Regions from separate parts of the Homo sapiens genome. Here region 2 is linked to region 1. The links come from fine-mapping of genetic effects on gene expression. A gene starts in region 1. The other region holds a variant in brackets. All regions are shown on one strand. Distances are between the middles of the regions. Region 1 holds the start of LIMD1 (LIM domain containing 1). Region 2 overlaps LIMD1 (LIM domain containing 1).

The links. PIP is the estimated chance that this variant, and not a neighbour inherited with it, causes the effect.
Region 2: its variant is fine-mapped to the expression of LIMD1 in whole blood (TOPMed, PIP above 0.99).

The regions. Positions count from the first base shown.
Region 1 is chr3:45,590,100-45,598,424 of GRCh38, forward strand. It overlaps LIMD1 (LIM domain containing 1), which reads left to right and starts at 4,652. Exons shown (of 8, transcript NM_014240.3): 1 at 4,652-6,188. The coding sequence starts at 4,781. RefSeq lists silencers at 3,659-4,128, 4,139-4,268 and enhancers at 4,359-4,528, 7,024-7,523.
Region 2 is chr3:45,669,066-45,677,390 of GRCh38, forward strand. It overlaps LIMD1 (LIM domain containing 1), which reads left to right. Exons shown (of 8, transcript NM_014240.3): 5 at 3,625-3,755; 6 at 4,389-4,440; 7 at 5,278-5,346; 8 at 7,857-8,325. The coding sequence ends at 7,994. Among named protein-coding and RNA genes, the nearest start is that of LIMD1-AS1, 16 kb to the right of the region's middle. The variant G/A (reference allele first, on the strand shown) is at 5,131.

The DNA of each region.
Region 1 (8,325 bases):
CTTCAGCTAAGCCAAGATACGGGGAGGCAGGAGGGCATCAAGGATTGTGGGCTCACATAGGTGCCAATGTCACAGGATACTTGGGGTGTTGCTTTTCCAGACAGAAACCTCTGTGGCTAGTGGTGCCTTTGCCCAAGTTTTGCTCAGGCCTGCTGGTTTTGTTTCGCCCACTTAGCCTGACAGGCTGTGCTCAGCTCGTGCTACTGGTGTGGATCCCATGCTTGCCAAGGGCAAGCCAGCCATGGAGCAGCGAGAGCTGTGTGAGCAAGCAAGCATGGGGTCTGGCCACTGCACACAGCCAGGCATGCCAGCTGTGGCAGTGCAGGCAGCTCCAGGTGCCAGCACGGGCACAGCTGTGGCTGGACCAGGCGTACCACAGGCAACTTCCACCGCTGGCACTGGGGAATGCGGTGGCACCTGGAAGCTTGGAGACACCAGGAACCGCAGAGCCCCAAAGAGGGTATCATAACCCTGGATTGGGGTGCTCCTAGGTCTGGGCTCCCCAAAGGGCTGCAGCTTTTCTCTCCTTCTCTCTTTTCTCCTTCTCTCTTCTCTCCTTCTCGTTGCCCACAACGTGGCAAGCAAGGGGTGTGTTTCAGTCCTGTTTGTGTTACAGATCTTTTAGTGCCACCATTTGCCCAGTGGGTCCCAAGTTCTTGTCCTGTGTCCACAAAGAATGAAGTATGCAGACAACTGGAGGGTGAGCAAGGCAGAAAGGAGCCTCACTGAGTGGCAGAACTGTTCTCAGTGGGTATCTCCTTTCCTCAGGCAGGTTGTCCCGATGAGTGTCCAGCTCTCAGTGGAGAAGAGACCCACAGTGGGTAGCTGCCTTCCACAGGCAGGTTGCCCCGATGTCTCTGCAGCCTTCAGCAGAGAGACCCAGAGTGGGTAGCTCCTATCTGCAGGCAGGTCATCCCATTGTCTGCCTGAGTCTGGCTGAGTCTGGTTTTTTTTATGGACTTCAGAAGGGAGGAAGTGTGTGCTGATTGGTCCACCGGCAGCCATAGGCAGGCCCAGGAAAAGCACCATAAATTCTCACTCCAGTCTGCAGGACTGATAGCTCAGCCCCTAGGTTTCAGGCTGTCCCTGTCTTGAAGGGGGCTTCACTGGGGACCCATCCCATTTCACCCAGGAGCCTGATTGCCCCCTGCTGCCATCAACCTGCTGGCCATGGCACCCATGGCACCCAGGCTGTTCATGCTGAGGGGTGCCTGCAGGTACATGCCGAACTGCCCTCAGCCTCACCCTGGCCTCCCTCCCATGCTCATCGGCACCCAAAGTCTGGAGGGGGCCGAGGCGGCAGGGGACTGGTGTGTCAGTGCTGCCCTGAGTGCGTGCACCCCCAGCTGGGTCGTGACAGTATCTGGGCTCAGCTTCAACTTTGCTCCAAAATCAGAATGGGCACCAGGAGAGGCCAGGCAACAGGAGCAGGCACTTCTGAGCCTGTGGGAGTAGGGGGGCTTTCTAGGTCCCCGGGAGCACAGGGATGCCCAGGTCTGCAGCCACAGCTGGGTGGATGCAGCTGTGCCTGGGAAGGCAGGGCTCCCGCCCCACCAACTCAGAAGGGAGTGGGGCTCCTGCCTGTTCCTAGCTCCTACCAGCTCTATGGAGCATGCAGTCACGGCCTCACCTCGCCATTGCAGCTAGCATCATGGCAGTGGCTGCTCCAGATGGACCACTGCTGCCATCACCAAGATAGGATGAAAAGAGAAGACAAATGTAAGAGCACTGGTTGGTGTCTGTGGCTCCTGCACCAGGGTCCCAGCTGTCCAAACTGAAAACCCAGGAAGCTGGCTCTGAGCTTACTGGACTTTGCAGAGGGATGGCCATATATTCCTAGCACTTTGTCAGCTACAACTGCCATATTTGGAGGTCAGGCAAAGTGAGCCAGTCTTCCACTCCAAAATCCAGTTTTTAATTAATAAGTATTACCCAACACCTAAGGAGTGTTTAATTATGATTACCTCTGAGAAAGGGGATGGTAGGCAACTTTTAAAACTTTATATATGTCTGTATTGTTCAAAGTTGTTATAGAAACATGTATTACTTGTAGATAAAAAACCAAAAAAAATTTTTTAATAAAAATACTTCATTTTAGTATAGTGCTTTATAGCAGTGCTTCTGTAACTTTATTGTGCAAATAAACCGCCCAGAAATCTTGTTAAAATGCAGATTCTGATTCAGTAGGTTGGCAATGGGGCCTAAGATTCTGCATTTTCAACAAGCTCCCTGGTGATATGGAGTCCATTAACCATACTTTGGGTTTACGGCAGCGGTCCTCAATCTTTTTGGCACCAGTTTCACAGAAGCCAATTTTTTCACAGACGGGATGAAACTGTTCCACCTCAGATCATCGGGCATTAGATTCTCATAAGGAGCGTGCAACCTACATTCCTCATGAGGGTAGTTCATAATAAGGTTTGTGCACCCCTCTGAGAATCTAATGCCACTGCTGATCTGACAGGATGTGAAGCTCAGGCGGTAATGCCAGTAATGGGGAGTGGCTGTAAATACAGATGAAGTTTCGCTGGCTTGCCTCCTCTCACCTCCTGCTGTGCCACTCAGTTCCTAACAGGCCACAGACCAGTACTGGTCAGTAGCCCAGGGGTTGGGGACCCCTGGTTTACAGAATATAAAGCACATTCATATATATTATCTTATTTGTTCTCTGTCACAACTCTGGCAGATAGGGGTTCACTAATTCACTTATTCGACCATTAGGTACTACTATTAATATATACCAGGCACTTGGCATACAGATATGGTCAAATGGAGTGGGAAACCTACCACCCAACCAAACAAAAAAAAACGCATGTTAACCAACAAATAAATAATTATAAATAGTTATCAGAACTGAGCAGGAAGTAAAGAGGGTGCTGAAAAAGAACAACAGGAACCACTCTGAGGAGGCCTCTAAGAGGAGGTGACTTCAGCAGGGATGGGAAAGATGAGCCACTCAGTTTAGGGGCAAGCTCTGGGCAGACACCAGGAAGCTCCTGCAGCTAGAGTGCAGGGAGGGAGGGAAGATCCCTAGATCTGGCCCAGAAGGCTGCGGCAAGGGGCCGATTTCAATTTAATTCTGGGGTAAGCACTGAGGATTTAGGTAGAGAAGTGTCTGTTCTAGTATTTGCCTTAGGATCACGATGGCTGTAGTGTGGGAAATGAAACCTCTCCAGGATCGCCTGGGAACTGGTATAGGGAGTCCCGGGCCATGCGGGGGCGCCAAGGAGTCAGGCCTGGTGTCCCTGCAGCCGCGCGGATCCACTTGCAGATGGGTCCCTCTACGAATAACGAGCCTACTAGGGCACGTGCTTTTACTGCTGCACTGAGGACGTGAAATGCGCGCAGGCACAACGAGACTTTCTTCTTTTTCGCTCTTTCAGAGGGCCCGGGCTCCCATCTACGCTTTGCTGGTTACGTTGGCATGTTGGGCATTTCCCCCTCTCTGCCTCAGTCTCCCGACCTGTCAAAGAGGACGGTGGGCCAGCCATGGGTGACACGCCCGTGCGCCTCTCCAATAGTGCACCTCGGGCAAGCCGGGCGGCGGGCACAGCCTGGACGGTGCCGGCCTCGAGAGGCACAAAGGGCTGGCTTTCCACCGGGGAAACTGAGGCAGTGGAGCGAGGAGCGGCGTCCTCGAAAGTCCTCGCAAACTCCCAGCGCCTGTGTTGGGCCCATGCAGGCTACCCAGGCCGCCCGTCTCCGAGCGGAGGACCCCGCCCAGCGCTGCCAGGGGCGGGGCCGGGCTGAGGACCCGAGGCTGGAAGGGAGGTCGGAGCACCCAATTCGGTCCAGGACTCGCAGGGGGCGGCAGTGGCGGCGGCGAAGTCCCGTGCAGTCCCAGTGCTAGAGCGTGGGACGGACTTGTGGGGCACCCCTCGGTGTTCTCCAGCCAGGCCTGGGGGCAGGAGGCCCAGCCACGCTGCCGGGTGCAGGCCTGCCCCTGGGCGCCCGCCCGCGCGCCGTCCCCGCCCCTCGGCCGCCCCCTCCGCCCCGGCGCGGGCTCGGGACGTGCAGAGCCGGCGAGCGAGCAGCAGGGACTGCGCCTGGCGCACTCACTTCCGCGTCCCGCCGCCCTCCGGCCCGCGCGCGCCGATCCGCCGCCGCCATCGGACAATGGGCCGCCAGCCCCAGCTGCCGTGAACTTCCTGCCGCTGCTCGGCCGCCCGTGCGTCCCGGACGGCGTTCCTGCCAGGCGCCGGCCGGGATCGCAGCTCCGGGGAAGCAGCGGAGGACCCAGCGCCTGGAACGTACCTGCGCCTCAGCCGCCGCGCGTTTGCTCCGGCCCGACTCGCGGCCTCGGCGCCCTCCCGGCCGATTCAGCTTCACCCGGCCCAGTCGGCTGCTGCCTTGCTGTGAGTTTCCGTGTTTGGTTGCCTAAGGAGGATGTGATTTTACTTTTTTGCTGTTTTCTTTTTCCTTTTATAATTTGAAGAGGAGAAAAGAACTCCGCTGAGCAGGCCCGGGACGGCGAAGTGCCACCAGCTACCCCAACAAGGACGTCTCCAGGGGAAAGGGAGTTGGAAGCAAACTTGGTCCAGCTGGCGTTGAGGTCTCAACTTCGGCTGGACTCTTAAATCCTGGGGTCATGCCCTTCACGCTAGGCAGGTGGAAGTCTTTACTTGTACTGGGCCGGACTTGAGCCCCGACCCTTCGCCAGCATCTCCCCGCTGCCCTCAACACACACACACACACACACACACACACACACACACACACACACACACACACACACACACACACACGGCACCTGGGCTAGGCCCGGACACCTGTCTGCAGCATGGATAAGTATGACGACCTGGGCCTGGAGGCCAGTAAATTCATCGAGGACCTGAACATGTATGAGGCCTCTAAGGATGGGCTCTTCCGAGTGGACAAGGGTGCAGGCAACAACCCCGAGTTTGAGGAAACTCGCAGGGTGTTCGCCACCAAGATGGCCAAAATCCACCTCCAGCAGCAGCAGCAGCAGCTCCTGCAGGAGGAGACTCTGCCCAGGGGGAGTAGAGGCCCTGTCAATGGAGGGGGCCGCCTGGGCCCACAGGCCCGTTGGGAAGTTGTGGGCAGCAAGCTGACTGTGGATGGTGCTGCCAAGCCTCCTCTTGCTGCCTCGACAGGGGCACCTGGGGCAGTCACCACCCTCGCTGCTGGGCAGCCCCCGTACCCACCGCAGGAGCAGAGATCCAGGCCATACCTGCATGGCACGAGGCATGGCAGCCAGGACTGTGGTTCCAGGGAGAGCCTGGCGACTTCTGAGATGTCTGCTTTCCACCAGCCAGGCCCCTGTGAGGATCCTTCCTGCCTCACTCATGGAGACTATTATGACAACCTCTCCTTGGCAAGCCCAAAGTGGGGTGACAAACCAGGAGTGTCCCCCAGCATCGGCCTGAGTGTAGGGAGTGGGTGGCCTAGCTCCCCGGGGAGTGACCCACCACTGCCCAAACCCTGCGGGGACCATCCCCTAAATCACCGACAGCTCTCCCTGAGCTCCAGCAGGTCTTCTGAGGGTAGCCTCGGTGGTCAGAATAGTGGCATTGGTGGCCGCAGCAGCGAGAAGCCAACAGGCCTTTGGTCCACTGCCTCCTCCCAGCGGGTGAGCCCTGGCCTGCCTTCCCCAAACTTGGAGAACGGAGCACCAGCTGTGGGGCCTGTTCAGCCCAGGACCCCTTCTGTGTCAGCACCCTTGGCCCTGAGCTGCCCCAGGCAAGGAGGTCTTCCAAGATCAAACTCGGGGCTGGGGGGTGAGGTTTCAGGTGTGATGTCCAAACCCAATGTGGACCCCCAACCCTGGTTCCAGGATGGGCCCAAATCTTACCTTTCCAGTTCTGCCCCGTCATCCTCGCCAGCTGGTCTGGACGGTTCACAGCAGGGTGCGGTCCCTGGGCTGGGGCCGAAGCCTGGCTGCACAGACCTTGGCACTGGTCCCAAGCTCAGCCCCACCAGTCTTGTCCATCCAGTGATGTCCACCCTGCCTGAGTTATCTTGTAAAGAGGGTCCCCTGGGCTGGTCTTCTGATGGTAGCCTGGGATCTGTGCTCCTGGACAGCCCCAGCTCCCCTAGGGTAAGGCTGCCCTGCCAGCCCCTCGTCCCAGGTCCTGAGCTGAGACCCTCTGCTGCTGAGTTGAAATTAGAAGCCCTCACCCAACGTCTGGAGCGAGAGATGGATGCTCACCCGAAGGCTGATTACTTTGGTGAGTGAGAGGCTGGTGGAGTTGCCTATGGTGGGGCGATGGGGTTCTTGAGATTGGGGAACATGCCCCCTACCAGGGATGCTGTGGGCTGTAGTTACCTCTCTTTGAGTGGCCTGTTTTTTTATTTTTTTGTTTTGGGCTTCCTCTTTCAGCTGCTTTTTCTGATTCAGAAACTTGAAAGCATCCTGGGGCAGAAAGCGGACCTTGCAGCTGGGGTTACCCATGTGTGAAGGGTGCAGCAGGGTGGGATTGCTCATGACTGCTCTCAGAAAAGAGAAATGCTGTGACTTTGGATTTCAAGGGTTTTGGGTGTGACTTTAGAGCCTCTTGCAGTGACAGGCTCATATAGGACTTCAGTGGGACCAGCTTTCTCAGGGGCAGCTACCCCTGAGCGTTCAGTCTGTAGTTGGTTGGGCAGATCTGGTTGATCTGGCTGTTTGAGGGACCAGTGATTGAGGCAGGGGCTCTTGACTGCCGTGTGTGTGTGTCTGTGTGTGTGTCTGTGTGTAGATGGGTACTTATGTGCAGTTGAGGCAGGTCAAACACTACCATGAAAGACTTGTAGAGCAGTGGATCTTTTTTTTTTTTTTTTGAGATGGAGTCTCGTTCTGTAGCCCAGGCTAGAGTGCAGTGGCACAATCTCGGCTCACTGCAACCTCCGCCTCCCGGGTTCAAGCAATTCTCCTGCCTCAGCCTCTTGAGTAGCTGGGACTACAGGCACGTGCCACCACACCTGGCTAATTTTTTTTTTTTAAGTAGAGACAGGGTTTCACTGCGCTAGCCAGGATGTTCTCAATCTCCTGACCTCGTGATCCGCCCGCCTTGGCCTCCCAAAGTGCTGGGATTACAGGCGTGAGCCACCGCGCCTGGCCAGAGCAGTGGTTCTTAAGTGTAGTCCCTGGATCAGCAGCATCCCTTTGCCTGGAAACTGATTAGAAATGGAAATTCTTGGGCCCCACCCAAGACCTACTGAATCAGAAACTGTGGGATGGGACCCAGCCAGCCGTGATCCTGCTGTGTGGTGAGATTTGAGCCCTGCCGCACCATGTGCCTCCTAACCCAGCCTACACCCAGGTAACAGCCAACAGCCAGGTTGCACCACAGCCGTGGCACAAACTATGATGGAAAATGTGTCTTCCTGGTTTTACTCAAACTTGCATGTTTTGTTTTATTCTCTTTTTTAAAACCACAAACTCTTGGAGACTGCTAGCTTCAACTTTTTTTCTTTGCACGAGGTTTAGTGGTAGTTGTATCTTTCTGTTGAGTAATGATTAGTTGTCTCATAAGAGAGCTAACTAGAAAGACAGCCTATTCGCAGAGAATCGGAGGGGTTTTTCTTTTTCAGTTTTTAACTTTGGATAATTGACCCCCGTGTTCCCCATAGCCTGAGTCCTGCTGGGGTAGCAGCTCTGCCTAGTGGAGGGCAGGGACAGGGAAGGCCCTGGGAGAGGAAGACAGCTGGCTTACTGCTGTCAGTCTACGCTTATTCTCCGTGAACGAGCAAGTGTCCCAAGGTCCTTTGAGGGACCAGGGTCTGAGGCACTGGGCTGCTGGATGTGTGCAGCTTATGGTAGCATTGTGTTTTGCTTCTCATGAGAACCTTGTGGGAGCCAGTTCTCACCCCATACTCAGCAGGCTGAGGTCAGGGTAGCTGTTTATGGCTTACTTTTTTTAAATTTATTTTTATTTATTTATTTGTTTATTTATTTATTTATTTTGAGACAAGGTCTTGCCTTGTTGCCCAGGCTGGAGTGCAGTGCACCCTAGACCTCCCGGACTCAAGGCATCTTCCTACCTCAGCCTCCTGAGTAGCTAGGACTACTTAAGAGGAAGCAGGGGAGGAAGGGGACGTGGAGGTGGGGGGTCCTCTCTAGGTTGCCCAGGCTGTTCTTCTGGGCTCAAGTGATCTTCCTGCCTCAGCCTCCCAAAGTGCTGGGATTACAGGTGTGAGCCACTGTGCCCGGCCTACTGGTTTATTTTTTAAAGCACATGGCACCATCTTACTGTGAACTATCTTTTCTCCTCAGCACATTCCCACATTTGGGAGTAATAGTTAGCTGGAAATACTGTGGGTCTTTTAATTTAAACTTTTGTTTAGTTGTAAATTTCAAGCTCATTGGACAACACAAACAGCAGT
Region 2 (8,325 bases), 79 kb after region 1:
ACCATTACGAAGATGAGTTTTTAGGGCCTGTCATTTAGTTCTGAGACAGCAGAGCAAGGACCAGGTTTTATACATTCCATTCTTTGCTCAGTCACTGGCTCTCTGAGGTTATTTTGGGCTTCAGGTCTTCAGTGGGGACAATTTTTCCCTAGAGGGTTAGGTTATGAGGTTAATGAATACAACATCAAATTGTTCACCATTGGAAACCAGCCTTTAAGAAGTTCTTTAATATACTGATCAGAGGAAATGATTATATAACATACTTTAAGTTGGAAACAGTTAAGTCCCTCTCTAAGCTGACTCATTAATTTCATTCTAGAGAAGATAATTTCTAATTATTAGTATTTTTAATTTTACCTTTTTATTGAGAAATAACTCATAGAGTAAAAGATACTAATCTTAAGTGTACATCTGAACGAGTTTTCACATGTGCATATACCCCTGTAACCACCACCCAGATCAAGATATAGAACACTTCCCAAACTCCAGAAAGTTCCTTCTTGTCTATTCCCACTCAAGACCCCACTCCCACAAAGGCAACCATTATTCCAACTTCTATTGCCAGAAATTCATTTTGCTGGTTTTGGAACTTCATATAAATAGAAACATATAGTATAGACTCTTTCAGGTCTTATTACATATGTTTTTGAGCTTCATCCATGCTGTTACCTGTATTGGTAGTTTATTGATTTGTATTGCTAAGTGGAATTCCATTGTATGGATATAGCACAATTTATTTCTCCATCTCATGTTGATGGGGATTTGGTGGTTTCTAGTTTTTTGCTATTTATGCATGAAGCTGCTGTGAATACTCTTGAACATGTCTTTGATGGACATAAACACTCATTTCTGCTGGTTATATGCTAATATTTATAAAACATCAGTGACCCACAGCCCTCCCCATTCGTGATGAATATCTGCTATCTCCCAGGCTTTGACAGACCTCAGCAGAGGTCTTAGCCCTATTAGAGCCATGTCCTCATTAGTAGCCAAGACCTCCCTGGGAAACGTGGCCCTTCCCCCATGCTCGCAGTGGGAGGTAGGCAGAAGCTACATATGCTTACCTCTCCTTCCCAGGTATCTTCTAGACTCTGTAGGGCTCTATTTCTTTAGCAGAATTTGCCTTTGTTTTTAGTGTCCTTCTGACAAACCTACTTCATATGAAGTCAACATGCTCTGAATTTATGAGTATGATTATACCCTATTCTTAGTTCTAGTAATCCTAAGACTTCTTTGGATAACCTCAGGGTATGTCATTTATCTATTGCTGCATGACAAACCACCCTAAAACTTTGTAGTTTAAAACAATAGTGATTTCTTATTTATCATCATGCTTCATGCTGTGGGTCAGGATTTAGGTCAGGGTTTAGCAGGCCAATTCTTCTGCTCTGTGTGGCATTGGCTGGGGTCTCCTACTTAACTTTGTTCAGCTGGTAGCACAGTTGAACTGGAACATCCAAGATGACCTCTCACCCTCCAGGCCCCTCTCCCTGTAGCCTCTAATCATTCAGTAGTCTAGTTCAGACTTCCTTACAGCAAGAGATAGGAAGTGGAAGCTACCAGTCTTCTTAAGCCTTTGACTCAGAAATCTCAGAACATTGTTTCTTCTGCTTTCTGTTAATTAAAGAAAGTCACAAAGCCAGTTCTGATTCAAGGGGAGGGGGAAATAGTCCCCATCTCTTGATGTGAGATCTCTACCATATGGGATAGTATGAAGTTGAAGCTTCAGTCTTTCAGGTCTTCCCTAGGACTTGAAAACTTTTAGTGAATGTCTAGACAGAACCCCAGCTGTCTAACTCTTTGTGTAAATTGTCTCTCTATATACCCTTTTGTTAATAGAGGGGTACATTCTGGGCTTGCAGGTTAGAACCAGGCATAGTCTCACATAAAAAAAGTATTACAGCTAGTCACAATGCAGCAAAATGGCATCTTTTTCTAATCTTACTTTAGGCACAATGTGGATTAAATTAATTTAAGGATCTCTTTCTGCCAAGACAGCATTCATCTTGGGGAAAATGCATTCCAAGGTCCAAATTGCCAAATGGGTTTTGGAAGCCCAGCCAGTTGTTCTTCCTGTTTTGCCTTACTGCAGATTGAGAGGGCCCTCAAAGGTTAGGGAAACCCAAGAGGGAATGAGGAAGCTTGAAAGCTGAGCATTCAGAGGAAAGCTGGAATAGCACAACGCCCTCCTCTTGCCTTCTTGGCTGGAGCTTGTGCAGTGTGGAGTTATCCGCCTGAGGCTTCCAGGGGAAGGAGCTGTAACACAGCATATCTTTACCCCTGGGTCTCACAGTGTACTGACAAGGCTTCCCCAAATCCAAAATCCCCTTTCTTCAGCCTGTTTGAAGGCTTTCTGTGTGGGCTCCCACTGCTGGATGCTGATGACCGTTCTGTACATTCTTTGCAGATGCATGTTTTGGTGTGACCTTGCTCATGTTGATTCTGTAGTTCAGTTGTTTTTGCTAAGTTTCATGATGCAGGTAATTGCAGAAATGAATCTCCTATTAAGTCAGTGAAGATGCTTTCAACTGCAAATTATAGAAAAAACCCAGACTCAGTTCGAGTTAAACCAATGATCCTCCAACTTTAATATATATCAGAATCACCCTATTAAAATACCAACTGCTGGGCCTTACCCCCAGAGTTTCTGATTCAAGAAATCTGGGATGGGGTCCAAGAATGTGCATTATTAACAAGTTTGCAGGTGATGCTAATGCTGAAGGTCTGGGGCCACACACATTTCGAGGACCACTGACTTCATAGGAATGATATTTTATCTCACCTAAAAAGAGGCTTGGAGGTATGTGGTTCCATGATGAGTTAATTCAGTTACTTACGGACCTCACCAAGGATGTTCTTTCCATCTCTTCTCTTTCCTGCTGTCCATGTCTTGGGTCTGTCCTGGTTTCAGGTTGGCTCTGGCAGTTCCAGGTATCCCATCCAGATCCAGATTAAATGACACTGAGAGGAAGAAGTTTGTGGGGCTTTCCCTCTATTGCGTTTAAAAACAACAACAGAGAAACTTTACTTATTACACTTGGATTTGAGGTCATTGGGTTGAGTCAGAACTTCTAGATTATCATGCTCCAGAGTCAAAGCTGCATAGAAGGGGCATCCAAGAGGCAGAAGTGAAGGGGTTCCTTTTGAGCTCTGCCATTTCCACATGGAATTTCTTTTCATTTTTCCGAGTACTTGCTGCTTCCCAAATCTGGGAAGGATGTATCCTTCTGTGGCCCTGCTTTGCATCGTTTCCCACTTCTTCGTGGTGGATTTTGGCCCTGGGATTGGCCCATCCCTTCCTTACCATCTCTTTCTCTTAAAGAACTATGCAAGAGTTTCCTGTTCTGGGTGAGGGTTGGAAAGGAGCCCTCTTTCCCTGCCAGCTCAGAGACCCTGTGAGAGGCTGCAGGAGAAGGATTCCTGTGTGGTCTCTTCTGTGTATTCATCTAAACAGATTTGCCTTTCCCACCCCATCACCTCTTGCTCTTCTCCTAGGTGAAACTCGGGGGTAAGTGTACTCTGTGTGTGACTGCTCATGTAATCCTTAGGCCTGATGTGTTCCTCTCCCCTTCCACCATCTCATCCTTCCCTATAATCCCCACTGAGTCTTGGTCTCTGCTCCAGATCCTGCAAGCCCTGGGGAAGTCCTACCACCCCGGCTGTTTCCGCTGTGTCATCTGTAATGAGTGTTTGGATGGGGTGCCCTTCACCGTGGACTCAGAGAACAAGATCTACTGTGTCCGAGATTACCACAAGTAAGAAGGGATGGGAGCAGACAGGACCCATTCGTGTAGGCCAAGCTGATCTCAGCAGAGTGAGTGGTGGAAACCGACAAAACTGTGTTTGCCAGCCGCCCTTAGATCACAGTCCAGCAAAGGCTTAATGGTTTTGAGGGGTACAGCAGGGACCTTGGGAGGTTGGTCGATGCCAGTGTTGACAGGAATGGGTTAAAGAATCATGTTTAGTGAAAAAAAAAAAACAACAGAGCACAGAAAAACTAATAATCATATTTGTAGCTAGGCCTCGGGAGGAATCCACCAAGCCCTGTGGCTTCAGCGTTACCTAACTTCACAAGGCCCCTATGCAGTGCTGGTTCCTACCACTCTTGGTTTGCCTGGGCCTGTGCTAGGCACCATGAGAGGTGTAAACAAATCAGTTAGTGCTGTCCCCAGAAGAGTGAGAGGCAGCCAGTGTCCTCATTGCAGCTGGGGAGCAAATACTAAGGCATATTCCACAAAGTGAGCCAGGTACCAGTCATTCTATGAGGGAGGAGAGCAAGGGGCAGGAGGCGGCATGGAGGAAGGCTCCATGTGGATTCCAAGTGCAAGTCTGACTCTGGAATTTGCTCCCAGAAGCAACATTTATTGCTGCTTTGTTTCTCCCCACAGGGTGCTGGCCCCCAAGTGTGCAGCCTGTGGGCTTCCCATCCTTCCACCTGAGGTAAGATGCCCTTCCAGACATGCTCCCAGGGGCTTCTAAGACATGAATATCTCCCTGGGCTCATTTACAAGATCCATGTCCTGTCCTTACAGCTTTTAAGGTATCCTTTTAAAAATCTCAACTCTGGCCTGGTGCAGTGGCTCACGCCTGTAATCCCACCCCTTTTAGGAGGCCCAGGCAGGAAAATTGCTTGAGGCCTGGAGTTTAAGAACAGCCTGGGCAACATAGCAAGACCTCATCTCTACAAAAAATTGTTAAAAATTGGCCAAGTGTGGTGGCATGTGCCTGTAGTCCTAGCTGCTTGAGCCCAAGAGTTTGAGGCTGCAGCGAGCTATGATGGTGCTACTGCATTCCAGCAGGTGACAGCAAGACCTTGTCTCCAAAAAAAAAAAACCAAAAAAAACCCCACTTCACCTTTGAGATAAGTCGTGTCTTCACCCTTCCTTGTTGACTGGCTTCCCCAACCCAGTACCCTTCTTGTGCTGATTTGTCCCCATAACCAGGTCAAACTCCCTTACTTGATACTAATTCTTAGATTAGCAGATGAGGAGAAAGGCTTGTCTTTTCTTCATTTTTTAAAATAAGTGTCCATGTAGGTCTTTCTTTCAGTGTTAACTCTGACATTCTAGAAGGAAGGACTCCTATCCCTCCTACTTCCCCTCTCATCAGCTTAAATGTATTCTTCTTCCA[G/A]TAAGTACTCCTGATTTACCTTCTCCTCCCAAGGCCACCTACTTGTTACCCCCAAAACCCTCTTCCCTCCCCACCCCACGGTACATCAAGCCCGACAGCCCCCCTAACAGGCCTCTCCTATGTGTTCTTGCTTTTCTCTGGTCCCAGGGCTCAGATGAGACCATCCGTGTCGTGTCCATGGACAGAGACTACCACGTGGAGTGTTACCACTGCGAGGTAGACCCCTCCCCACCCAGCCCCCAAAGCCCATTGTAGACATCCAAGAGAAAAGCATCCTGCGTTGACTGGGGCAAGAGGCAGTCAACAAGATTCTGGCAAGGGTCAGCCCTCTAGAGCTTCTGTAGGAAATGGAATGAAGGCTGGTTCTTGGGGGAGGTAGGAGAAGATGGAAATGCTCAAGGTATAAAGGTCTTTCTTCTGCATATTCAGAACTATCAAGTCCTGCAACTGTTGGAGCTGCTCTCCCTGAAGCTGCAGAGCTAGGAGGGTCGTGGAGAGCATGGGTTTCAGGTCCTATCTGCGGGCCACATTGTCAGGCAGGTGTGCGATTTGGGGAAGGGACTCCCTCCCCTCCAGCTTGCAGGCTGTTCTATCTGCCTGAAGCTCCTTTCTCAGCTGAGCCCTGGAAATCATGAAGCCCCTCTTGGAAACAGGCATGTCAGCTGGTGGTGTGAAGGCGGGTGGGGTCCGCCTGCCCCTTCCTGCCCTTTGTCCCAACCCAAGATGAAGGAGCACTAGTACCTGATGACTGTCAGGAAAGCTAGAGGTTGCCCCTCACCAACCCTTGTGAAGGGTGACCATGGAATTTCAGCCACAATTAAGTGAATTCACCCATGGAAGGAGATTAGATTCATTTGGTGACCCTGTGGGTAGAGAATGGGGGTGTCCCTCATATAGACTTGTCCCACTGCCAACACTGAAGAAATGGGTGGGAATCATTGCTGCTGGGACCCCAGGTGCCCCAGGTCACTGCAGGAGAAAAAGGTGAGGACATTTGCTCAACAGGCCTCTCCACATTTTCTAGACCAGTGCTATCCAAAAGAAATATAAGGGGCCGGGCGCGATAGCTCACGCCTGTAATCTCAGCACTTTGGGAGGCCAAGGCCGGCAGATTACTTGAGGTCAGGAGTTCGAGACCAGCCTGGCCAACATGGCAAAAACCCATCTCTACTAAAAATACAAAGATTAGTGGGCGTGGTGGCACACGCCTGTAGTCCCAGCTACTCGGGAAGCTGAGACAGGAGAATTGCTTGAACCTGGGAAGTGGAGGTTGCAGTGACCTGAGATCATGCTACTGCACTCCAGCCTGGGCAACAGAGCAAGACTCCGTCTCAAAAAAAGAAAGAACTATGAGAGCCACAAATTAAAGTCATGTATCATTTTAAGTTTTCTGGTAGTCACAATTAAAACGTTAAAGAATTATGAGAGCCACAAATTAAAGTCATGTATCATTTTAAGTTTTCTGGTAGTCACAATTAAAACGTTAAAAGAAACCGGTGAGATTAATTATTTTATTCGGTTCAAAATATCCAGCCAGGCATGGGCCCATGCCTGTAATCTTAGCACTTTGGAAGGCCGAGGCAGGGGGATCACATGAGCCCAGGAGTTTGAGAACAGCATGGACAACACAGTGAGACCCTGTCTCTACTAAAAATACAAAAATTAGCCAGGCATGCTGTGCCTATAGTCTCAGCTACTTAGGAAGCTAGGATCGTGTCACTGCACTCTACTCTGGGTGACACAGCAAGACCCTGTCTTAAAAAAGTAAAAAATCCTGCTGGGCGTGGTGGCTCATGCCTGTAATCCCAGCACTTTGGGAGGGCAGATCACTTGAGGTCAGGAGTTCAAGACCAGCCTGGCCAACATGGTGAAACCCTGTCTCTACTAAAAATACAAAAATTAGCCAGATGTGTTGGCGCGTGCATAATCCCAGCTACTTGGGAGGCTGAGACAGGAGAATTCCTTGAACGGGGGAGGTGGATGTTGCAGTGAGCTGAGATCGCACCACTGCACTCCAGCCTAGAAAACAGAGGGAGACTGTCTCAAAAAAGAAAAAAAAATCCAAATGTTATCTTTTGAACATGTAATCAATATAAAAAAGTTACCCATGAGATTTTTTTTGTAACTCCACAATTTATTTTATTTCTTCTAAAAAAAAAAAAGGGATACGTGTGAAGATTTATTACATAGATATATGTTGTACGTGTGCCAGGGTGGTTTGCTGCACCTATTGTCCCATCCTCTAAGTTCCCTCCCCTCACCCCCACCTCCCAACAGGCCCTGGTGTGTGTTGTTCCCCTCCCTGTGTCCATGTGTTCTCATTGTTCAACTCCCACTTATGAGTGAGAACATGTGGTGTTTAGTTTTCTGTTCCTTTGTTAGTTTGCTGAGAATGATGGCTTCCAGCTTCATCCATGTCCCTGCAAAGGACATGATCTCATTCCTTTTTCCCATGAGATATTTTTACATCCTCTTTTTGTCCTAAGTCTTCGGAATCTGCATTTACACTGACAGCACATTTTAAGTGGTTCACAGCAAGTGCCTTGTGGCAGTGTCTCCTGTGTTGGACAGGCCTCCACGGGGCAGGAGCTGTGTTTCTGCACTGGCATTTCCTGCCTATACAGAAACACACAGCACCCTCTGCTGATTTTGGGGACTGTGGCCTTCAGGTCAGTCTTGCAGTCTGTTTTGTTTTGCTTCCCCTGGACATGTCTGCCTCCCCACAGGACTGTGGTCTGGAGCTCAATGATGAAGATGGCCACCGCTGTTATCCGCTGGAGGACCACCTGTTCTGTCACTCCTGCCACGTGAAGAGGCTGGAGAAGAGACCCTCATCTACAGCCCTTCACCAGCACCACTTCTAGCCAGAGCCACTTGCAGACATCACGGCAGGGGATGAGGAGCCGGGGTTGCTGCTGCTGCTTCCGGTGGCCCCTGGGGTGGAAGTGGGGTAGGGGAAGAGGAGGGGCAGGAGGGAGAGTTCCTGTGAGCATGTGGGGGGTGCCTTTCCTTTAACCAGGGAGGTGAACACTACCTGCCTCCTGCGTGTATTTTCCAAGTGCTTTTCTCTGTTGCCACATTTTCCTCAGGTTACTCAGGAAAATGCTCCAGCATGTGCGAGCACATGACCTGAGGTTGCATCATAGCACCAAAGGAATCCTCCTGTCCCCTCTGGGAACATTTCATGCTTCAGAG